Linked DNA regions of Homo sapiens. The protein of the gene in region 1 binds, or shares a complex with, the protein of each later gene. Each region holds a gene or a part of one and is shown in the gene's direction. Other genes may lie near its edges. The genes, in order: SKP1, FBXW11, FBXL5 and FBXW7.

Evidence for each region.
Region 2: the proteins of SKP1 (region 1) and FBXW11 are in contact, whole or in part, in a crystal structure (PDB 6WNX), measured with the Homo sapiens proteins. Residues at the interface, in NP_733779.1 of Homo sapiens: Asp96, Gln97, Gly98, Leu100, Phe101, Glu102, Ile104, Leu105, Asn108, Leu116, Asp117, Cys120, Lys121, Val123, Ala124, Ile127, Lys128, Gly129, Lys130, Pro132, Ile135, Arg136, Lys137, Thr138, Phe139, Asn140, Ile141, Lys142, Asn143, Asp144; in NP_036432.2 of Homo sapiens: Met114, Leu115, Gln116, Arg117, Asp118, Phe119, Ala122, Leu123, Gln126, Leu128, His130, Ile131, Ile135, Tyr138, Leu139, Ala141, Arg142, Ser143, Cys145, Ala146, Ala147, Glu148, Leu149, Val150, Cys151, Lys152, Trp154, Gln155, Trp164, Arg206.
Region 3: the proteins of SKP1 (region 1) and FBXL5 are in contact, whole or in part, in a cryo-EM structure (PDB 6VCD), measured with the Homo sapiens proteins. Residues at the interface, in NP_733779.1 of Homo sapiens: Phe101, Ile104, Leu105, Asn108, Leu116, Asp117, Cys120, Lys121, Val123, Ala124, Ile127, Lys128, Gly129, Lys130, Pro132, Ile135, Arg136, Phe139, Ile141, Asp144, Phe145, Glu149, Val153, Arg154, Glu156, Asn157, Gln158, Trp159, Cys160; in NP_036293.1 of Homo sapiens: Ile205, His207, Leu208, Pro209, Val212, Ser215, Ile216, Tyr219, Leu220, Gln223, Glu224, Cys226, Arg227, Cys228, Ser229, Gln230, Val231, Ser232, Met233, Trp235, Ser236, Lys240, Trp245, Arg315, Leu316, Gly319, Leu320, Asn323, Val324, Tyr327.
Region 4: the proteins of SKP1 (region 1) and FBXW7 are in contact, whole or in part, in a crystal structure (PDB 2OVP), measured with the Homo sapiens proteins. Residues at the interface, in NP_733779.1 of Homo sapiens: Gln97, Leu100, Phe101, Ile104, Leu105, Asn108, Leu116, Asp117, Cys120, Lys121, Val123, Ala124, Ile127, Lys128, Gly129, Lys130, Thr131, Pro132, Ile135, Arg136, Phe139, Asn140, Ile141, Lys142, Asn143, Asp144, Phe145, Thr146, Glu149, Gln152; in NP_001336727.1 of Homo sapiens: Pro274, Phe276, Gln277, Arg278, Asp279, Phe280, Ile281, Leu283, Leu284, Pro285, Leu288, Tyr291, Val292, Leu293, Phe295, Leu296, Pro298, Lys299, Asp300, Leu302, Gln303, Ala304, Ala305, Gln306, Thr307, Cys308, Arg309, Tyr310, Trp311, Arg312.

The regions. Positions count from the first base shown.
Region 1 is NC_000005.10:134,148,434-134,152,993, reverse strand, and holds the end of SKP1 (S-phase kinase-associated protein 1), read left to right. Parts: 3' UTR 1-4,059; downstream 4,060-4,560. UniProt on the Homo sapiens protein: Essential component of the SCF (SKP1-CUL1-F-box protein) ubiquitin ligase complex, which mediates the ubiquitination of proteins involved in cell cycle progression, signal transduction and transcription.
Region 2 is NC_000005.10:171,898,607-171,905,650, reverse strand, and holds part of FBXW11 (F-box/WD repeat-containing protein 11), read left to right. Parts: intron 1-5,550; coding exon 5,551-5,737; intron 5,738-6,556; coding exon 6,557-6,647; intron 6,648-7,044.
Region 3 is NC_000004.12:15,652,343-15,659,392, reverse strand, and holds the start of FBXL5 (F-box/LRR-repeat protein 5), read left to right. Parts: upstream 1-4,035; 5' UTR 4,036-4,105; coding exon 4,106-4,189; intron 4,190-7,050.
Region 4 is NC_000004.12:152,320,017-152,323,109, reverse strand, and holds the end of FBXW7 (F-box/WD repeat-containing protein 7), read left to right. Parts: coding exon 1-229; 3' UTR 230-2,566; downstream 2,567-3,093. UniProt on the Homo sapiens protein: Substrate recognition component of a SCF (SKP1-CUL1-F-box protein) E3 ubiquitin-protein ligase complex which mediates the ubiquitination and subsequent proteasomal degradation of target proteins.

The DNA.
Region 1 (4,560 bases):
GCTGAATCCTTAAAGTGTAGCTCCTGGCTTCTCCTTGGTAGGAAGCATTAGACATGGTTTCCCTCTAGGGAGCTGGGAGCTTTTGGTGTAGTTCAGGAGAGAAGGCATAAATACTGCTGGGAGGGAGTGGATAACTCTAATAAAAATGTTCCTGGGCTGGGCACGGTGGCTCACGCCTGTAATCCCAACATTTTCAGAGGCTGAGGTGTGCAGATCACGAGGTCAAGAGATCGAGACCATCCTGGCCAACATGGTGAAACCTCATCTCTACTAAAAATACAAAAATTAGCTGGGCGTGGTGGCACATGCCTGTAGTCCCAGCAACTCGGGAGGCTGAGGCAGGAGAACCGCTTGAACCCGGGAGGCGGAAGTTGCAGTGAGCCGACATCACGCCACTGACTGCAGTCCAGCCTGGCGACAGAGCGAGACTCCGTTTCAAAAAAAAAAAGTTTCTGGACAGAACAGATTAATGAGCCAATGGGGGGCTACAGAGCTGAAAGGTGCTACGAAAGGTTTTGTAAAGTGAAACTAATTTGGTTTCAAGAATCAAGTTGGATTTGTTTGGGGGTGGACAGATGCCAAAGTGAGGAAAAAGCAGTGCACAGTCAGGAACTAACAGCAGAAGGTTGGGTGTTGGTACATTTCCCTGAGAATATAGACTAAAGAGAAATTAGGGCAGGATTAGTCACAGTACTTTGCTGACACTCAGTAGTATTTTATCAGCATTTATTCATCAGACCCACATTAGGCAGGGCAATTTTTGAGTGAGCTAAATTCTAATTTTTTTAATTTTAATTTTTATTTATTTATTTTTTGGCTGTTCAACTAAACCAGTCTTTTGAATGTTGGGGGTTTTACAGTTAGAGTCCTGATGACTTTTTCTTGTTTACTGTTGTTAAAAATCACTACCTCCAGTGGTCACAGAGAATGAGTAAGAGAACTGGCTGTGCATATCAAGATGAAGTATGGTGTAAGAAATATTTCAGAGCATGTCCTTTGGCCCAAGATTGAGCCATTTGGACACCTAAGCAGGATTGGCTGAATGTTATCCTTTCTGCTGAGGCATCAGTGGAGATGATCATTAGTGGTGGCCGAAAAGTGTTGTCGAAGGTGCTCTTGCTTGACACACTTCCAATGCGGGACATAGTTTGAGTGATAGATGGCTAATTCATTGATAATGTACTTGTTGCCTTGCAGTCTTGTGTACTGCTGGCTACCTCTGGTCTGTGTGCCAGTATTGAGCAGCATTCTATGGGAGGAATGTAGTTGCTCATAACAGTGTCTGCTTCCACATCTGTAGTTCTTGCGACCTTCTGATATCTGTCAACTTTAAATTTTCTGGAAGTATTTAAGTATATTCAGACCTTCTGATATCTCTTAACTTCAAATTTTCAACCTGCTATATAGCAGCCTCTTATTGCACACTGAGGATCAGCTTATTTCCTTAAAGTGCTCTCACTTTGAATACCTCCCACCTATCTGGTGAAAATTCTTATTTGTCCTTTCTTTCCTGAATGTACCATTTCACAACCTCTAACTGCCTTCTTCAGTTGCTTTGCAGATTTTTCTGTTCCAGGAAGCTTACGGAAAGGGGTGGGAAAATAGAGAAGCTGTACTCTATCCTCAAGTACTCAAGCAGGGTTTCCAGAGTGGCTTTGTAAAAATTTTTATTTATTTATTTATTTATTTTTGGTGAGTGGAACCTGGCTTTTCCTCTTCCCTCCCCAAGCCCCACCCCGCTTCCTGACATTGCACATGCCTGAAAGAACTAGGCTTCAGATAAAAGAATGAGAACACTTGAATGAAAAAGGAAGACTTGGTCCAGAGCCCCTGGTGAATATGAAAGAAGTATTGGCCTGGACTATCTCCCGCATAATTCACAGCTGCTATCTTGTCTTCAGAAGTGAAACATCCCTTACCAATAGTGACCTAACTTGTGAGGACTGCTTGTGATAGTATAGTTCCCACCCCCAGGACATAAGTTTTCCCTTTCCAGTTAACATGCCTAATCCCATGCTATCTTTAAGAGCTTGAAAATCCTTCCTGACCTGAGCTAGGCTTTTATTCTAAGGGACTGTGTATGTGAACATCCCCACCATCTATGTTTCCTGTTTTCAAACTCGGTGCCGTTTTGAGTATTTTCAGATGCTCACTGCCAGTAATGGTTTGTTAGTAGCTCCAAACTATTAGAGAAGAGCTCAGGAGTCAGAATTTGAAAGATGCCCATAGGGTGATTTGAGATTTGGAACAAGGTTATCACAATAAGTTGGGATTGGGGGAGTTGACACAACCAGGGTCTGCTTGGGTGGGCAGCTGTTTCAGAAACCCTTGGTGAACTCTTAAAGCCCTGAAGAGCTTAAAAAATGCTCTGAAGAGATCTGAGAGTCGCAGTTAAGGACTCTCAAAGAACCTCAAAGAAAAGCCAACTTAGCCTTTTTATACAATTAACTAGATTTGGGTCTTAAATTCTACTTTGACATATAGGCCTAAGAGGTAGTTTAACATGGCCTTGTTACCCTTACCCCTTCTGTTCTGTGCTGTTTTCTGAGAAACGGATGCAGGAACTGATTCCCTTTCTTCCTCTCTGGAACAGGATATAAAGAACCCTTCCGCTTCCCTTTACTTGTGGCCTTCCTGGCCAGGCTTATGTATACTGAACAAAGCTAGGGTGCAGTGCTTCTGAGCTAGCTGTTAGGGGTCCACAGCCAGAAGGAATGGGAGACCACAGGAGCCATTCAAAAGATAATTACATGTCAGAAGAGAGTCCATCCATGGGGTTCTGTTAAAGTAGACACCTTCACGTTGGGAGACATAGGCTTTGTCTGCTTGCTGGGCTGAACCCTCACCATATCCACAGAGAACAAAATGGGGAGCAGCTGTACCAGGGGAGGGATGAACGTCTTTCACCCAAGTTGCCAGTCTGCTAGTTGTCTGGAAATGTTCAAGGGAGGCTAAGGTATCTTGTCTTATGATGTCTCAGGAAACAGGGTTGGTTCTCAGCTGGCAGTGAAGGGGGACTGGTGTGGTATTAGCAGTTGAACTTGAGGTTGCAATCTCAAGTCACCCTCTGGCCTCGCAGGAATGCACCAGGGTGATTTGGGAGGATCTGAGTTTCCTTTATGAAGTCAGATTAAAAAAAAAAAAAGCTGATCTGATTTAAACAGAGTTGCCAAAGACTTCCCCGCCAATACACAAAGACTGCATTGTTCAGGTACCCTGTGTACTCTAAGTGAGACACCAAATCAGATGCAGCAACCTGGTCTTGCATAAGCCCTGGTTAGAATGTAGGTTTTTTAAACAACTAGGCCAGTAGCCAGAACAGAATTCTTTAAAATGGGACAGATGTCCAGAGAATGGCTAGTGTCCTCTAGCACTCTCTCAGAAGCAAAAGCAAGTCTGGGGTTACAACTTCCAGTGGCCTACTTTAAATAGACGCTGTTCTGGAAAATGACTTTATACTTTAAACACAAAATCCAAAAAATAGAACTCAGTGGAGTGACAATGACAATGCATGATGGTGGCCCAGTGGCTGTCCCATGTGAAATACTTCTTGCCTGACATGTATCATCTACTTGTTGACTGACCTATTGAGGTGCCTTCATGACACCTTTTACATTCATGATAGGTCTCAGGAAGACAGCAGTGTACTTGGTGGAAACTCATGTAAAAAGTGGGTTGTAGGGAGCTAAACAGTGAGTACACATGGTATATGGATACGGAATGGAATAATAGACATTGGAGACTTCAAAAGGTGGGAGATGAAAGGGGGATGAGGTATGAAATCCTACCTGTTGAGTACAATGTACACTACTTACGTGCACAGTACACTGTTTGGGTGAGAGGCACACTAAAAGCCCGGACCTCACCGCTACCCAGTATGTTCATGTAACACAGCTGCACTTGTACCCCCTAAATGTATACAAATAATCTAAAAATAGCCCGGACCTCACCGCTACACAATATATTCATGTAACACAGCTGCATTTGTACCCCCTAAATGTATACAAATAATCTAAAAATAAAGTGGATATGGTGGCTGTCGTGTCCACCAACAGCGTATGTAACTTTTTAAAAAGTGGGTAATAGATTTATCAAACTTGAAGGCTTGTGTGAAAATATGAAAAATACTTTGCGTCTTAACAGATGCAGTCTTTGGGTGCAGCGCACCAGCACGGCACATGTATACATATGTAACTAACCTGCGCATTGTGCACATGTACCCTAAAACGTAAAGTATAATAATAATAATTAAAAAAAAAGATGCAGTCTTTGGGAGGAAGGGGTGCTATTAAAAAATCCTCCTTTAGGATTTTGTGGTGCTAATAGGTTATAAAAGACTCGTTTGCTCTTGTTTTCCTTGAAATAGGATATGCACTTGTGGAATGTTTTCTTTTCTCTCTGCCCTCAGAGGAAAATGGAGCCTAGTGGTCATGTGTACCTATTTCAGGTTGAATTGTCTTGTCAGCCTTTATGGACGGCAGTTGGCAACTCATTTATTCTTATATGAGCACTGGGGAGCAGGCTGGCCTGCATCATTGTGGGGTTAAGAGCAAAGCTTGG
Region 2 (7,044 bases), about 38 Mb from region 1:
GTTCTTCTCAAAACATTTAAGGGGCCATGAGACTTATACCAAGAAAATAAAGGGGGGGGGGTTAGCTTTTTGCTGGAGGAGATGCGTAGTATTTTTTCTGCAGAAGGTAACAAGAAGAATATTGTGTATCGGCCTTGTCCATTGATATCTGCTGAGAGGATTTGGGGGAGAGTAGAACAAAGACTGATATTTCTTGAGTGAACTTCTTATTTACCTAGCTCTTTACGTATGCTGTTTTTTAAACTTTCGCAGCAAGACTGGGAGGTTCCCTCTATGTAAAATGAGGGTATGTAGAGTACCTATCTCAGAAGGTTATTGTGAAGATTATATGATGTAATTTATTTCAGACATTTAATATCATTCTGATATTATGGAAGACTGAGATCCTAAAAGGAAAACTGATCTGCTTAAGGTCACACAACTAGCAGTTGACAGAACTGAGATGCAACCTAGTTTTTCTGACTTTCAGGCAGTGTGTTTTTCACAAGACTAAAACATGCTGCCTCATAGAAGGAGGAAATGCATTTAAAGTATCAGACAAAGGAAATAGGTCAAATCTCATAGATATCACTGAGATGTTGCTTAATTGGACTGATGGCATTTGAAAGAGGAAGAAATAAGTATTAGTAAGGGATTTATTTCTGTAAAAACTCATGATAGCCTAGTTGTGAGCAATTGATGGGGGAATCAAAGAGGACTAAAAGGGATATCATTGCTATAAACCAATAGTTCCTAATACTTCAGCATTATCTAGTGGCACTTCTTAAAAATACAGATTCCTGGCTGGGCACGGTGGCTCACACCTGTAATCCCAGCACTTTGGGAGGCCGAGTTGGGTGGATCATGAGGTCAAGAGATCAAGACCATCCTGGCCAACATGGTGAAACCCCATCTGTACTAAAAATACAAAAATTACCTGGGCATGGTGGTGTGCGCCTGTAGTCCCAGCTACTCGGGAGGCTGAGGCAGGAGAATCGCTTGAACCCAGGAGGTGGAGGTTGCAGTGAGCTGAGATCCCACCACTGCACTCCATACTGGCGACAGAGTGAGAATCTGTTTCCAAAAACAACAACAACAACAAAAAAACCACACCCAGATTCCTGGGCCTTACCGTCTAGAGATTCTGATTTTGTAGGTCAGGAGAAGATTGGGGGGATCTTTTCTTTTTGCTGTTGTTTTGAAAATCAGTAACCCTGAGTTGAGTCAGATACAACCACACAGGCTTATAGACCACCCAGATAGGTTGAAGGTTTGGGTGCTGCTTTCCCGTCACAGATGATGGGGATGTTGCAGCCTTTGAGGTTTGAAAAGGCGAGTATCTAATGCATTCTTTTTATTTTTTATTTTTTTTAAAAAAAGACAGAGTCTTGCACTGTAACCCAGGCTAGAGTGCAGTGGCATGATCTCCACTTACTGCAACCGCCACCTCCTAGGTTCAAGTGGTTCTCGCGCGCCTCATCCTGCCAAGTAGCTGGGATTACAGGCGTGTGCCACCATGGCTAATTTTTGTATATTTAGTAGAGATGGAGTTTTGCCATGCTGTCCAGGCTGGTCTCAAACTCCTGGACTCAAGCGATCTGCCCATCTTGGCCTCCCAAAGTTCTAGGATTACAGGTGTGAGCCACCATGCAGCCCCTAATGCATCCTTGTCTTGCCATTTGTTTCACCTTTCAGAGAGCAGAGGGTTCTAGAGAGGAATTAGTTTGAGATGTGTTTATAACCAGTTAGGAGGATTTGGGTTAATGATGTGAAGTTTACATTACTTTAAAAGTGGCTATGTTCTCAGCCTGGGCAACATAGTGAGATCCTGTCTCTACTAAAATTTTTTTTAAAAAAAATTAGCCTGGCATGGTAGTGCATACTTGTAGTCTCAGCTACTAGGGAGGCTGAGGCAGGAGGATCACTTGATTCTGGAAGGTCAAGGCTGTAGTGAGCCATGATCATGTCACTGTACTCCAGCCTGGGCAACAGAGTGAGATGCTGTAATTAGCTATGTTCTAATATTAAGTGTAGAAATCAGAAAAGGAAGATAGATAAGTACCCCAGCGTTAGAAAGATTGAAAGAGCTAAGTCTGTTAGTCCACGGCTAGAGACTGAACAAAAATGTGATAAAAGAAGGCTGACGGATTCTGCAGTTTGAAATTCTGATGAATAATTTGTCAATCCTAGTGATGGAGAGGCACAAGCAGAACCCCACGTGATTATCCTTGGATTTCCCTGATTTTAAGTAAACATAGAAGATGGAAGAAAGGCAGCCAGGCGCAGTGGCTCACGCCTGTAATCCCAGCACTTTCAAGACCAAGGCAGGAGGATTGCTTGAGCCCAGGAGTTGGAGACCACCCCGGGCAATATAGTGAGACCTCATCTCTACAAATGATAAAAAAAAATTAGCTGGGTGTGGAGGCATGTGCCTGTAGTCCTAGTTACTTGGGAGGTTGAGGTGGGAGGATTGCTTGAACCCAGGAGTTTGAGGTGGCAGTGAGCCATGATTGTGCCACTGTACTCCAACTTGGGTGATAGAGTGAGTCCCTGTGAAACCTTTGAGAATGGTACCAAGAAGACCAAACTCCAAATAATGTTAAATTGTCCAAAATGTTGAAGTAAATTGAAAGAGTTGAAAACAAAATAATTAACTATTTGGAGCCAGATTATAAAGGATGAAGGGATAGTGTGCTTAGAATAGATAGTATAGTGATAATAGAAAGAAACAACATATTTTCACTCCCATTAACCTAATCCCACCATCCCCCCAACCCAAGAATAATGGCTTTAAAACAAAGGTTAGCAAAGTTGTGTTTGAGAAAGATGTGAAGATATTTAGCAATCACATAGCTCCTATAGACAAGTAGGCCTAAATACATTGTATGCCTGGATAGTGGCAAAACCTGTGGTTGTGATTTTTCAAATTGTAGAACATTGTGAAGCAATTGAAAATCAGTATGCAGAACTATTGGGTACAATTGTGCCCTGTACAGCTTGTACAGTTGCACATGGTAGTCTTGCATGATAGCACCAGAGATGATTGATGAGCAGACTTCCTGGTTTTAAGAACTGGAGAAGGTGTTTTTGGGGGATTTAGCTATTAAATTTGATGTTGTGCTTTAGCAGAATTCTTAGATGAGTTTCAAAGGCTAATCAGCCTCTGAAAAGATTGTGTATGGTTGTGTAAACCTAGAAGGATGTATACAGAATGTGAAAAGTGGTTCCCTTCTCTGGGAAATGGGGTTTAGGGATTTAAAAATTTTTGCTCATCTACACTTTATAAATTTTCTATAATGAACATGAACTAGATATGTTTAAAAGGGTTACCAAGCAGCTAGTGTCAACATGTAAGTGAAAAATTGCAATACAACTTTATGTAGTAAACCCCAGCACGGGAACATGAAAGCAGCCATACCCTCCTCACCTTATTTCCTTTTTGGATAAAGTTACCAGGCTAGTAGGTAGGTCTGAAGAATGATGTAAATAGATGGTAATATCATCATCTGCTGATTTTTCCAAATACCTCCGAGGACAGAATAGAGAGATATGGACTGGGCAATGGCACATATAGATGACTACAGACCGGATGTCGCAGTGTGGGTGCCCTGGGCATATTGATGCGGCATCAGTGCTAGCTTGGAGGGAAATATTATAATAATAGGTACTAATAGCTAGTGTCATGGGTGCTGTCCTTGGTTCTGACCCGTTTAACGTGTTTGCCAACATGGTTTAACATGTTTGCCTTAGTACTTTAGCCCATCATGCAGGTCTGGTGTGGAATACCCACTCTTCTGGGTGTGACAAAAATCAGAATTCTAGAGACTGAAATGGATGGGTCAGACAAAGCTTTGAAGGTGAATTATAGTAAGGATAAATATAAACCGCACAAAGCTGCCCCCCACCTTTCCAACTAGCTGTGCAAATAGAGCATTCGGGGAAATTGTTTCAATAGATGTTTTTGGGGGAGAGGCCTGGGATTTTATTCTAACTTACTGCCATCTTAGGCGTCTTCTGTGATATGACTATCAGATGAAGGCAGTGCAGCCTTTGACCACATTAACTGTAAATGACATGCAGGAAAGGACAGTGGTCCCAGTGTAGTCTTTATTCTTAGACCATAGCTTGGGTCTTTGATCTAGTCCAGAGTAAGAGAATTTTAGTATATGAAGGACCTGGAAATTATAACCAATGGTATAATAATAGTCATTCTTAGAATTGAAGGAACTTTAGTTTGTAAAGCATTTTTCATGCATCATCTCATTTTGATATTTTCAGAATCAAGTAGAGATTATCGTAATCTTATACAGATGAGGAAACTGACTCTGAAAGTTTAATAATTTACCTACATCTGGCCTTTCAACAACCAAGTTTAGTGCTATTATACTACTTCTAATTATTTTGAGAAAAGAGAACAGATATTAACCTTGTAGAGTGCTTGTCTATAAAATGTTTTCATAAAACTGTTGAATTTGATTCTGACAGACAGTGTAAGAAAGGATAGTTGTTACTGGTGATTACCATTTTGTATGTTAGGGCACAAAAATTCAAGGCACAGGGATGTTTCAGTGTTTGTTTCATGTCATAGAACTAGTAAGTGGTGAACCTGGGACTTGAAATGGGAATTTTCTGATGATAAGTTCTGTGTTCTCGTCCCTACACAGAATAAGCTTGGGGAGAAGCTTTATTTCTTGCAACTGTAGAAGACATACTTACCGCCACAGGATGGGAGTTTACAGGTGGCAACAGTGGTGGCCATGTTGATCATCTTCCCATTGTGAATGTCAGGCAGAGGCTGAAAGTGGTTTTCTTTGAGAGTATCCTTGTATCGTGGGAGGTTGAAGCCAATGACCTCTAAGATTCTAGGATTTGTAGACATGGGGCTATTGCTTTTGAGGATTGTCCCATCTGTTTAGGAACAGAAAATGGATACTCACGAAAGGGAGATGAAAAGATTGACAAAAATACATTTAAGCACAATCGACTTTAATTCTTGGATTGCCATTTAACTTTTCATAAGTTTTTCAAGATGAGTCGGTGTTTTGCCTTTTTTGTCTTCTGATCTCCCAGGGATTCACACCGGGTATGGATTAATGGGGATATGATTTGTTATGAGAGACAGTGAGTAAGATGGGAATGAACACAAACTTTGAAGCAAGAAATCCGAGTTCCAGTAGTAAAGCCAAGGGAGTGTAAAATCTTGAGTTCTTTACCTTTCTGTGCTTCATCTGTCAAACTTGGGGCGTCATTGCCCTATAGGAGTGCTGTGAGAGTTATATAAAAGAAAATGAAAAGTCTTATCTTAATATTTGACAAATAACAGAACTGTCCAAGGTCAGCTTTTACACACAGAGAAGAGTTGCTATCAATTGTTTTATCGTAAAAAATCAGAACCAAAAAGAAGTGTATATGTTTATGTACTCATGGATTTGAGTATCTGTAGAACTTTTGATATGACTAAAATATTTTACTTGGTTCAGGATTTCTTTATTCCTCTTATCTTTAAGGAAATGATGGCTGGTACCTTTCTATCTCTCTTCCCGTTCCTTCATTCCCTTTTCTGTTTTGTAGAGCAAGGCTTAGATCACATAGCAGAAAACATTCTTTCGTACCTGGATGCCAGGTCTCTGTGTGCAGCAGAGCTGGTATGTAAAGAATGGCAGCGAGTGATCTCAGAAGGAATGCTTTGGAAGAAGCTGATTGAACGAATGGTACGCACTGATCCCCTATGGAAAGGACTTTCAGAAAGAAGAGGGTGGTAAGTACTTGGGTTGCTTGTTCCCTTGAAAAAATTTTATTGACATAGAGTCAGCTTGATTACTCAAAAATGCAATTATACTTGCAAATGTGCTGGCCTATTTTTAAAAAGGGGGGAAAATGAGTGGTCAAAAGTTGGAAGAAAAAGTTAAAGCTGTTAAAATTTCTCCCTCTGAAATGTGTATTTCCTTTATGAACTGTATTATATAGTTTGATGGGATTTGGCGTTTCAAAGCTATGTATTTATGTTTTTTCCTTCACATTTTGCTTAGTTGATGATACCATTACCAAAATATAGATATGACAAAAATATGAGAAAGTCAGATAGTGCCATTTTGCTGTTTGTTATTACTGCTGGTTGAGGAAGTAATAACAGTGATAGGATTTTTCAGAGAAAACTCATAACTCTGATGCAGCTTTATAGCTAGCTGTATGCTGTATGGCCCAGTTAGCAAAGAGAGAGAGCTACAGACAGAGGTGCATATAGGGCTGTATTTTCCTTACGGGAGGAAGTTTGATGTGTACTAAGTTAGATTTTTCACAAAGCTACATTAGCGCTTTTTATTAAACTCTATGGAATGAAAGGCTAGATTGTTACATATTAGTACTCAGAAAACACGATCAGGATTTTGTTAGAGAGCTGTGAATTGAGCTAAACTTGTCTGTAACATGTAAATTTGTCAGAAATCCTGCTTTTGAACTGTTAAAACTCAATGCAAATTAAAAGACATGAAAGATATATCTTTGTCAGCACCATGTTTAGATAAAATTCACCCTTTTATGTGCAAAAATGTAACATCTGTTTGTTTTTATTTGCCAGGGATCAGTACCTGTTTAAAAACAGACCCACAGATGGCCCTCCAAATTCATTTTATAGGTCATTATACCCAAAGATTATCCAGGATATAGAGGTAACTTTATGATTTATCTGTTTTATGGGCTCTTTGTTTCTTGTTCTCAACTTTTTATGTTGCCTTAGAGTGTTCTTTTGGTCTAAAATCGTAGAACTAATAATTTTTTTTAAAAAGTTGAGCTTTTGGAGTAAATGTGTCATGTTGTATATAATCTGCAGCTATTCTGCAGAGAAAATAATGTCTTTTGCAAAGAATATCTAACTTTTCTAAAACATGAAATGCTTCTGCAAGGCTGCCGGTTAATTCAAACCTTAATCTAAAATCATCTTTTTATTCTAAGCTGATAAATTTTCCAAAATCCAAGGCCCCGTTTTTTTAAGTAAGCATTGTTTTACATTTTTGAGCCATCTCTAGAGAACTAGAGAAGGCACATTTCAAGTTTTCTCTGTACATT
Region 3 (7,050 bases), on another chromosome or scaffold:
AAGGAGGGTAACAATTGTTGAAATTAGGACTTTAAATATAGCTTGTTTGGATTAGTTTTTCTTAAAAACCATATATGTATATTACTGAATAACAGGAGTATTTTGGTTTGTAAAAACTTTTCAAATTCTCATTCATGCAGCAAGAAATATTTTATGCCTACTATGTATGCCTACTACTTGTTCAGGGAATGTAGATAAACATTATTACATAATGTCAGGTACTTAAAACTGCTAAGAAATTAATTATTTTACTGGGTACCCTTCCATTTATGACATTCTTCTGATTTTTTGTCATTAAATATATTATTTAGTTAAAGCACAGGAGGGACTGAAATTAATGAGGAAGAAACATTGATCACTGCAGCTGATTAAGGATGGGGTGGATAGTATGAAACTGAGTTTAAAAGCTGGGAAATTCCAAGAACAGTAATCAGGATTTATTCAACTTTATATCTCAAGCTCCTGCTGCATATTGGGTGTCCAGTTTAACGCTGAATATGAAAAAATTAAGTCTCTGGAGTCCCAGATGGATAATTTTTCTTAATATTTAATGCTGAACTTAAGGGCCACTTCTACCAGAAAGCCCTCTGTGGCTATCGAGAAAGTAGATTAAGACATCATCCTGTATGTGCCTGTCTTAGTCTGTTTTCTATTGCTTATAACAGAATACCTGAAACTGGGTAATTTATAAAGAAAAAGAATTTATTTCTTACAGTGTGGGGCTGAGAAGTCTATGGTCAAGGGGCTGCATCTGATGAGGGCCTTTTTTCTGGTGGCGACTCTGCAGAGTCCCAAGGCAGTGCAGGACATCACATGGCGAGGGACTCAGCATGCTGGCACAGGTCTTTCTTCCTCTTGTAAAGCCACCAGTCCCACTCCTATGATAACCCATGAATCCTTTAATCCATGAATGAATTAAGCCATTCATGAGGGCAGAACTTTCATGACCCAATCACCTCTTAAAGGCCCCACTTCTTAATACTGCCTTATTGGGGATTAAGTTTCAGCATGAGTTTTAGAAAGGACAAACATTCAAACCACAGCAATTCCTAAATCAGCCTGCTGCAGCAGTTGTTGATTGACTATTTTGATGGACAGTAAGGATCAACTCTGGTACTGAGTGAGGACTATGATTCCAACTGGGTCAAAACGTAAACATTCTTTCATTGCTTGTTTTCACAACTAATCCCCTATTAGGGAAAGTGCTGTGTCACATACTCAAACGGAGTGAAATGCCTTAGAATTGACCCTCCCTGGCCAATAACCCTTTCCAGGGTTCTCAAAATTAGGCTTGGAAACTACTATAGAAGAGGCCTATTGATAACAGAATAAGTTATATTTTTAGGTTGCCAGAGAGAGAATGAGAGTAGGTAAGAGAAACGACCAATTCTACCAGTTATTCTACAATGTGGGTTTTCACTGCTCTGTTCACATGCCTTATTCAGACTTCTTGTGGTGGTCAATTGCTAGATGGTCTGTTGGAATTATCTGCTGTCATACATCCAAAAAGGTCTCACAGAGAGGTAAAGTGACAACCTTGGTCTTAATAACCCTCCCAAATCTGCTGTAGTTGCAGTAACCTATGGTAATGATACTACACTGATCAATGACCTCTTTAGAGCTAAAGTTCAGTAAAGTCAGTCATTTATTTTGGATATATCAGGTGATTAATTGCTACATAATTCAGCATATGGAGCTAATGTTAATAGCTTTCCATGGGAAAAATTACTCACAGGGATTATTTTTAAAATCACTTTCTTTCATTTTGTCATCTAAAACAAATTCCTTGAAATGGCCAGTGTCCAAAGTGGCTGTTACTACTTTTCAGCTGATTATAGAGCTTCAAATCTGGGTTACAGTGAAACTGTGTGGATGGACTTTTTTTGTTGTTGTTGCCAAATACCTTTTTAATGTGTCTGGTTCTACAGATGGATACACTAGTGAACAGCACAGACACAAACAGTTGATTGGACAAGACAACATAGCATATTAAACATTAGTAAAAATGAGGAAATTACACAGTGCTATGAACTACCCTCATTCTTTTTTCCAACATATTTACTGAATACTCACTTTATGACAGACATCATTCTAAGTGCTGAGGATAAAACAAAGTGCATGTTCTCATGGAGCTCATTTCTCTATATAACTGGTTCACCTGAGGTCTGATTCTGCATTCCAAGATAGCTGGAGTGAAAGATTAGTATGAGGTAAAGAAATAGAGGGTAAATAAGAAAATGCTCTCTGGAGGTTATTAAAAAATATAGAGGCAAAGTCCTGGCAAAAGAACGAGAAACGGGGTGAAAGGGAGAAGGAGGAAGAGAGAAATTAATCTTTATCAAATATTTTATTATTATTCTATTTCTTAAGCCTTATTCCTGCTTCTTAAGACAGACTGTGAATAAGCCATCTCTGTATCCCAACTAATGCAATGACTCTGGGGGTACTGTCAGATCCAGATTTATATGACAGATTTTTGACTTACTAATTTGTGGGACCCTAGGCAACTACTAGAATGTCTTGAAGACTTAATTTCCTGCAGCACTACCTCATAGAGTTGCTTTAAAAAAGTATTACTAGCTTACAGACGGTACTGTTATAAGTGCTTCAAATATATAAATCCTCATAAAGATTCTGAGGTAGGTATTATTAGCTTCATTTCATGTCAGAGCAAACTGAGGCATAAAGAAGTCATATAGCTTGTTAACGGTTGTATAGCTAGTGTCTGGCAAAACCAGGAATCTTAACTTCCAGAGTCTGTGGTTTAACCACTGTTCACACTGTCTATAATAGCATATAGTAATATAAGATTAGAACTAAATAGGGTGCATTCCACTGCAAAGTTCTTTCTCACCTTCTTCTACTCCATTATTTGTTGACTATTTACTGATCCCCATGTTGTCTTGCAACTGTGATAGATAATAGAGAACAAGGGTGAACACAGCATATCTGGTTCTTGCCCTCCTGGAGGTTCTGGCCATTAAGCAAATAACAATTCCTCCCAAGGTTCTCAGGCTTCCCTGTTTTCTCCTATTTCTCTATCTGTCCAGCAGTACTCCAGCCAACCAATCTAAGACTGACCGGCGTGAGCAGAGAACAGAGTCTCCAGGAGGTCTGTGGCCAGGGCCAGGCGATTTATGGGAAAGAGGCAGACATTTTCCTGGGTTAGTGACCTTGTTTTCTCTCCGAACCTCCGCTTAAAATGGCGGGATTTGTACCAAGGTTCTTTCCCGCACCAACCTTCCATTATTCACCCTTCTCCCCACCCCCAAGGCCCGTCGGGCCTATCCCTGACCCGCGTTCCTGCACTTGAGGTGCATTTCCGCACCTGGATCCCCAGATACTGTTTTTCCCCCACGTTGAGTCTCCCGAATTTCACGAGAACTCTCTCTCGCGGTCTCTGCCCCGCCCCTCGCACCCAGGCCCCGCGCCCGCTGTGGGCTGCCGCCCGGGACCGAAGCTCTCAGAGCCCGCAGCTCTGGTTCACCAACCGCTGGGTGGGAGCCAGGCCCGGCCTTTGAGTGGCGGCCGGGGTGGTCTGCGCTCGGCCCCAGGAAAAATCTGGCACGGGCCAATCGCAGGGAGGCGAAGGGCAGCTCCGGAGGTCCTGGCCAGAAGCATTGGTCACCCAGGCCAAGCAGGCGTCGGGGCGTGGGCACAAGCAGAGCTCGCGGCCCTGACCGCGGCCATTGTGCTTGGCTGCCTCTCCTCAAGGCCGTGGTGGGCAGGGCAGCAACGGGAGAAGCGCCGAGAGCGCCACTGCAACGACTTTCCCCTACCCTCAGCTACTGTGCTTTCATGTAGTGAAAGAAACAGGGAAAAGGTTTGGGTTCCTTCTGCGGCTTATGAAGACGACAAAAAACGAAAAGAGTGGGGGCGGGAGGCAGAAGCCGCGAGCCTCTGCGCGCGCCCGGTCACGTGGGCCGCAGGGATCGCATGGCGGCGGCCTGCGCGCCCCCGCGTCCCCGCCGGCCAAGCCGACCGGGCGCGCGCGCCGACGGGGCGGGCGCATGCGCAAGGGGGCGCGCCGCCTCTGCCCCGCGGCGAGGGTGTCTATGGAGAGGCGGCGGCCGCGGCTGCTGAGGCGGAGGCTGAGGCAGTGGCGATGGCGCCCTTTCCTGAAGAAGTGGACGTCTTCACCGCCCCACACTGGCGGATGAAGCAGCTGGTGGGGCTCTACTGCGACAAGGTAACGGAGCGCTGAGCCTCCCGCTGTGGGCGGTGCGGGCGGCGATGGGGAGCGGGCTGGGTTCTTGGGGCGGCCTGGCCTGCGCCGCGCCCGCAGCCCCGTGCCGTCGCCGCGCGAGTAGCCGCCTGCGCAGCTGTCAGCGCCGCCCGCTCCCGCAGCCTGCCCGCCCGCTGCGAGGCCTTCGCAGAGCCGGCCTGGCCGCCGCCTCGGACGTGCTCTCGGGGCGGGCGGCGTCCCCTGCCGAGGGCCTGGCGGCTGAGGAGGGGCGCTACCGGCGTCACTGGCCGCCCTCGGGCCGGCCCCACCGCCGCGCTGGGACTCCCGCTGCTGCCTCTAAGGAGAGCGGCCCTACCTCCTCGAAGCCCTGGGTGCCCCGGCCGGCCACCTGCGGTGGACTCCCATCTGCACCGAGTAGTTGTTCCCGTCCCCCGTCACTCCCCCGGGCCTGTTCGGGGCTCTCCGTGCAGACACCCACCCATCCTCTGCACCTCTCGCTGGCTTCCTGGCTGGAACTGCAGCGTCTCCCAGCTACCCGGTTCCTTTTACCCCCGGCTTTCTTCACTGGTTTGATTTGGGAGAAAAGCCAAGTTTAGAACTGAAGAACCTTCACTCTTCATGTGTCGTTATCGTTTTCCTTGCAACTTTTATTGCCCTGAACACTTACTGGATGTAGATTTTGTTATAAGACAGCAATTCTCTCTTGGATTTCTTTATATGAGCTCGAATAAAGGGGGCCTCAGGAAAAGTTGGTTTAACTGTGAGAACCATTTTGGGCCCATAATTGGTGCAGCATAAGCTGAAGAGGCACTTTTGTGGAGATGGTTCAGGGCCCTTTGCTAGTGATTTTAAAACAATATTAACATTCCACGTATTTGTCAGTTTATGTTGGGGAAAGTCATGGATATCTGCAAACCTCAGGCAGTCCCGTTTCTTGTGGAAATGATCCAACTAAATAAAGCATTCAAATGACTACTGTTTAAGCATAGAAATCAACTTTTAGGAATTCTCAGAAATTGCATAGCATTATGCAGAACCATTGTCTACAGAAAAGAGGGGTGTTTCATAGCTCAGCCAGGCGATTGGAGGATGCCCAGGGTATTCACTGTTAGGCCACACTCAAGACCAGCAATTTAAAGCAGTGACGTTGAATTTCAAATCTTAGCACTCCATCTTCTCCCTCCCTCCATTCTGAAAATTTAGAAACACCCAGTTCACATGAGTTGGAAACACCAGGACTGTCTAGGACAATGGTTTGCAACCTTGGTTGCTTATTAGCCTTAAACTAAAAACTATTAGAAGTCCTGATGTCTAGGTCACTAAAATTAGGATTTCACCCAGACATCAGGTATAAATGATTAAAGCTCTCCATTTGAGTGCAGTATGCAGCTGAGGGTGAGAACCACTCATCTAGGAGAAGCATGAGGAATGGTTAAGCCATTAAGCAAGAGGGTATATCCCTGAATTTTTTACTTAGCAGTATTATAGTGTTTTTATCCTCTCTGGCTTTTGAATATCGTTCATTCAGACACCATTCTTTAATAGCAGGAAAGAAAAAAAAAATGGTCTCAAAAATCGAAAGTGGAAGTGAAGACTAACAGAATCCAAGGTTTTCTCTCCACTTTAGACTGTGGAGAGGTAGCCTAGGATCACCTGAAATTATATGGAAAATTTTGTGCGTGTGTCCATTTTCCTAGGGTGTTTGTAGCTTTCATCGATTTCCAGATGATTGTGACCTCCCAAAATAAAGAATCACAATTTAATTTACTTGCAGACTAAGGCTAAGCAGCCTTATTTTAAAATTTTCAAGAAGTTAGTCGCTCTTTTTCTGTCTCTTCCTGGTGGTTGAGAGTATTTGAACAAATTTTGAAAATGCAGTTGCTTTTTTACAAGATATCTGAGCCAAGAGTCTTTTCAGTAATGTTCCCACTTGCATAACTAGTTTAATAAAGCATTTTCAATTTGACATGGTGTAAGTCAAAATTATTACTAATTCTGAATTAATTAGATATAGTTAATGAGATTGTTGTATACGTTTATCACGAAGATTAAAAGTCCAATTTTCTGAACTGAAACTGAGGCGATTTAGGGAAAAAAAAATGCATAGGAATTTTACATCTGGATTTCTTCTTGATACTGATAGCCAATGGAAATCTCTCTTAGGATGTCCTTTGGGAGCTAGAGTGGAAAATAAGTATTTTGTAATGGTTCAGTAATCTTAAAGGAATTAAAGGAAGAGTACCTTGTTTGTTTTTATCCATTTATCATCTCACGTTTTGCCATCCTTTGGTTGTATAGACCAAGGATATCCAACCAAACAGTTTACAATAAAACTATATAAAATGAGAACTAGTTTTTATGCTCAGACTAAAAAGGTACAAAATAGTTATTTCACTGTACAAATTTGGGCTCTGAATGCCCAGTTATTATCAAGAAGTCAGTTACTATTTTCAATATTGAACTTCTCAAGTAGAATGTATTTTAGAAGCATCCATTTATTTACTAGCATCAAGTAAACCACTTATATGCTTAAGCCAGTTAGTATAATGTATTCCAAAGTTATGTTAGTCTACTTATTTTTTAGGTATAAAGGTGAATAGGATGAGAAAATAAATTTTCAAAAGCTGACAGATGTATGTCTTAGACCATTTTAAATATTGCTGTACAATACCCGATTTAATACTTTGCCCATGGATTTCTTTTTACATCTGTAAAAAGTTTTATGGAAAGGTTTTTCACCTTTGTTATCCAGACAACAGTGCTTTGAGTTATGTAAAGACAAGGTATTTCTGTTTTATAGCTGGGGACTTAGAGGCCTAGATTAGCTAGGCCAAGGTTACATAAGCAGCTAGTGGTAGATTCAG
Region 4 (3,093 bases), on another chromosome or scaffold:
CAACAAGAACTTTGTAATTACCAGCTCAGATGATGGAACTGTAAAACTATGGGACTTGAAAACGGGTGAATTTATTCGAAACCTAGTCACATTGGAGAGTGGGGGGAGTGGGGGAGTTGTGTGGCGGATCAGAGCCTCAAACACAAAGCTGGTGTGTGCAGTTGGGAGTCGGAATGGGACTGAAGAAACCAAGCTGCTGGTGCTGGACTTTGATGTGGACATGAAGTGAAGAGCAGAAAAGATGAATTTGTCCAATTGTGTAGACGATATACTCCCTGCCCTTCCCCCTGCAAAAAGAAAAAAAGAAAAGAAAAAGAAAAAAATCCCTTGTTCTCAGTGGTGCAGGATGTTGGCTTGGGGCAACAGATTGAAAAGACCTACAGACTAAGAAGGAAAAGAAGAAGAGATGACAAACCATAACTGACAAGAGAGGCGTCTGCTGTCTCATCACATAAAAGGCTTCACTTTTGACTGAGGGCAGCTTTGCAAAATGAGACTTTCTAAATCAAACCAGGTGCAATTATTTCTTTATTTTCTTCTCCAGTGGTCATTGGGCAGTGTTAATGCTGAAACATCATTACAGATTCTGCTAGCCTGTTCTTTTACCACTGACAGCTAGACACCTAGAAAGGAACTGCAATAATATCAAAACAAGTACTGGTTGACTTTCTAATTAGAGAGCATCTGCAACAAAAAGTCATTTTTCTGGAGTGGAAAAGCTTAAAAAAATTACTGTGAATTGTTTTTGTACAGTTATCATGAAAAGCTTTTTTTTTTTTTTTTTTGCCAACCATTGCCAATGTCAATCAATCACAGTATTAGCCTCTGTTAATCTATTTACTGTTGCTTCCATATACATTCTTCAATGCATATGTTGCTCAAAGGTGGCAAGTTGTCCTGGGTTCTGTGAGTCCTGAGATGGATTTAATTCTTGATGCTGGTGCTAGAAGTAGGTCTTCAAATATGGGATTGTTGTCCCAACCCTGTACTGTACTCCCAGTGGCCAAACTTATTTATGCTGCTAAATGAAAGAAAGAAAAAAGCAAATTATTTTTTTTTATTTTTTTTCTGCTGTGACGTTTTAGTCCCAGACTGAATTCCAAATTTGCTCTAGTTTGGTTATGGAAAAAAGACTTTTTGCCACTGAAACTTGAGCCATCTGTGCCTCTAAGAGGCTGAGAATGGAAGAGTTTCAGATAATAAAGAGTGAAGTTTGCCTGCAAGTAAAGAATTGAGAGTGTGTGCAAAGCTTATTTTCTTTTATCTGGGCAAAAATTAAAACACATTCCTTGGAACAGAGCTATTACTTGCCTGTTCTGTGGAGAAACTTTTCTTTTTGAGGGCTGTGGTGAATGGATGAACGTACATCGTAAAACTGACAAAATATTTTAAAAATATATAAAACACAAAATTAAAATAAAGTTGCTGGTCAGTCTTAGTGTTTTACAGTATTTGGGAAAACAACTGTTACAGTTTTATTGCTCTGAGTAACTGACAAAGCAGAAACTATTCAGTTTTTGTAGTAAAGGCGTCACATGCAAACAAACAAAATGAATGAAACAGTCAAATGGTTTGCCTCATTCTCCAAGAGCCACAACTCAAGCTGAACTGTGAAAGTGGTTTAACACTGTATCCTAGGCGATCTTTTTTCCTCCTTCTGTTTATTTTTTTGTTTGTTTTATTTATAGTCTGATTTAAAACAATCAGATTCAAGTTGGTTAATTTTAGTTATGTAACAACCTGACATGATGGAGGAAAACAACCTTTAAAGGGATTGTGTCTATGGTTTGATTCACTTAGAAATTTTATTTTCTTATAACTTAAGTGCAATAAAATGTGTTTTTTCATGTTAGTATGCCTGTTTCTTCCACTGAAGTAATAATCCTTCATTATAAGTATTTAGGATTTGTCTATAATATTTAAATAAGCAAAATCTTGGTTTCTTTGCATCCTGCTGTGTGACATAGAAATCAATACTTCAAGCCTGTTTTATACCGCGAAAGTAAGGATAATGTGCTGCAACTGCAAATTTTATTTCTCTCCTAGACTATGAAGGAGGACACTCCACTGTGCTCATCTCTGTAGATTGCATTGGGGTGTATAAATATGAAATCTGGTTCCCTCAAAGAATCCACAAAACTTTTGTGATAATTACAACTAGAAGCCTTATAAATAACAAATTCATTTTGAAATTTTGACCACATATTAAGTGCTTACCCTCGATACTTTCTGTTCATTCTCTCTTAAGCTCCCACTATCCCTGAGAAGTAGGCACTATTATCTCCCATCTTAAAGACGAGCAAAAATCTGCAGCTGAGACTGGTTAGGCAATTTGTCAAATCATAGAACTAGCGGAATGCCAGAACTCAAACCCATATTTCCAAAGACTAAATACATGCTGCTCTTTAAGAAAGTTTGACAGACTAAAGCAAGGTTTGAGAGGGAAATAAGCCATTTTTCTGGTACTTTCTGACTGTTCTGTAGCCGTTTTGTTCAACAAATCTAAATTTTATAAAATCTAAATTTTATGATGTAAGGGGAAAAAATAAAGTTGTTTTTGAAACTAGTTCTAAATATATTTAGTATCTCAAATAGCAGGAGATATATATATATATATATATATATACACACACATATATATATACACACATCCAGTAATCTCAACTAACCAGGCCGTAGATGAAAATATAAAAGCTACTGAAAATGGACTCCCCTTTTTCTCATAGTCATAAAGTATGTGTTCTTTACTCATAGGGCAAATCCTGGGCCTCATTCTCCCAAAGCTACTAAATCAGAACACCTGGGAGTGTGACCCAAGAACCTGCATTTAAACTAGCTCACCAGGTGAGTTGTGGATACTAAAGTTTCAGAACCATTGCTTTAGATACCATTCCTGTACATTTGGTTATTTGGTTTATTAGTCCACAGCAAATTACAGACACAAAAATAGCAAGGAAAAGTGACAGGGTAAAGGAAAAAAACAAAAAACTACCTGGTTGAATGCAAGGCAAAAATCCTACTAGGCCGTGAAGTGCAGGGTCTTTAGAGTAAACCACGTTACTGCCCAAACCGTGACTACTGTTCACATTGATG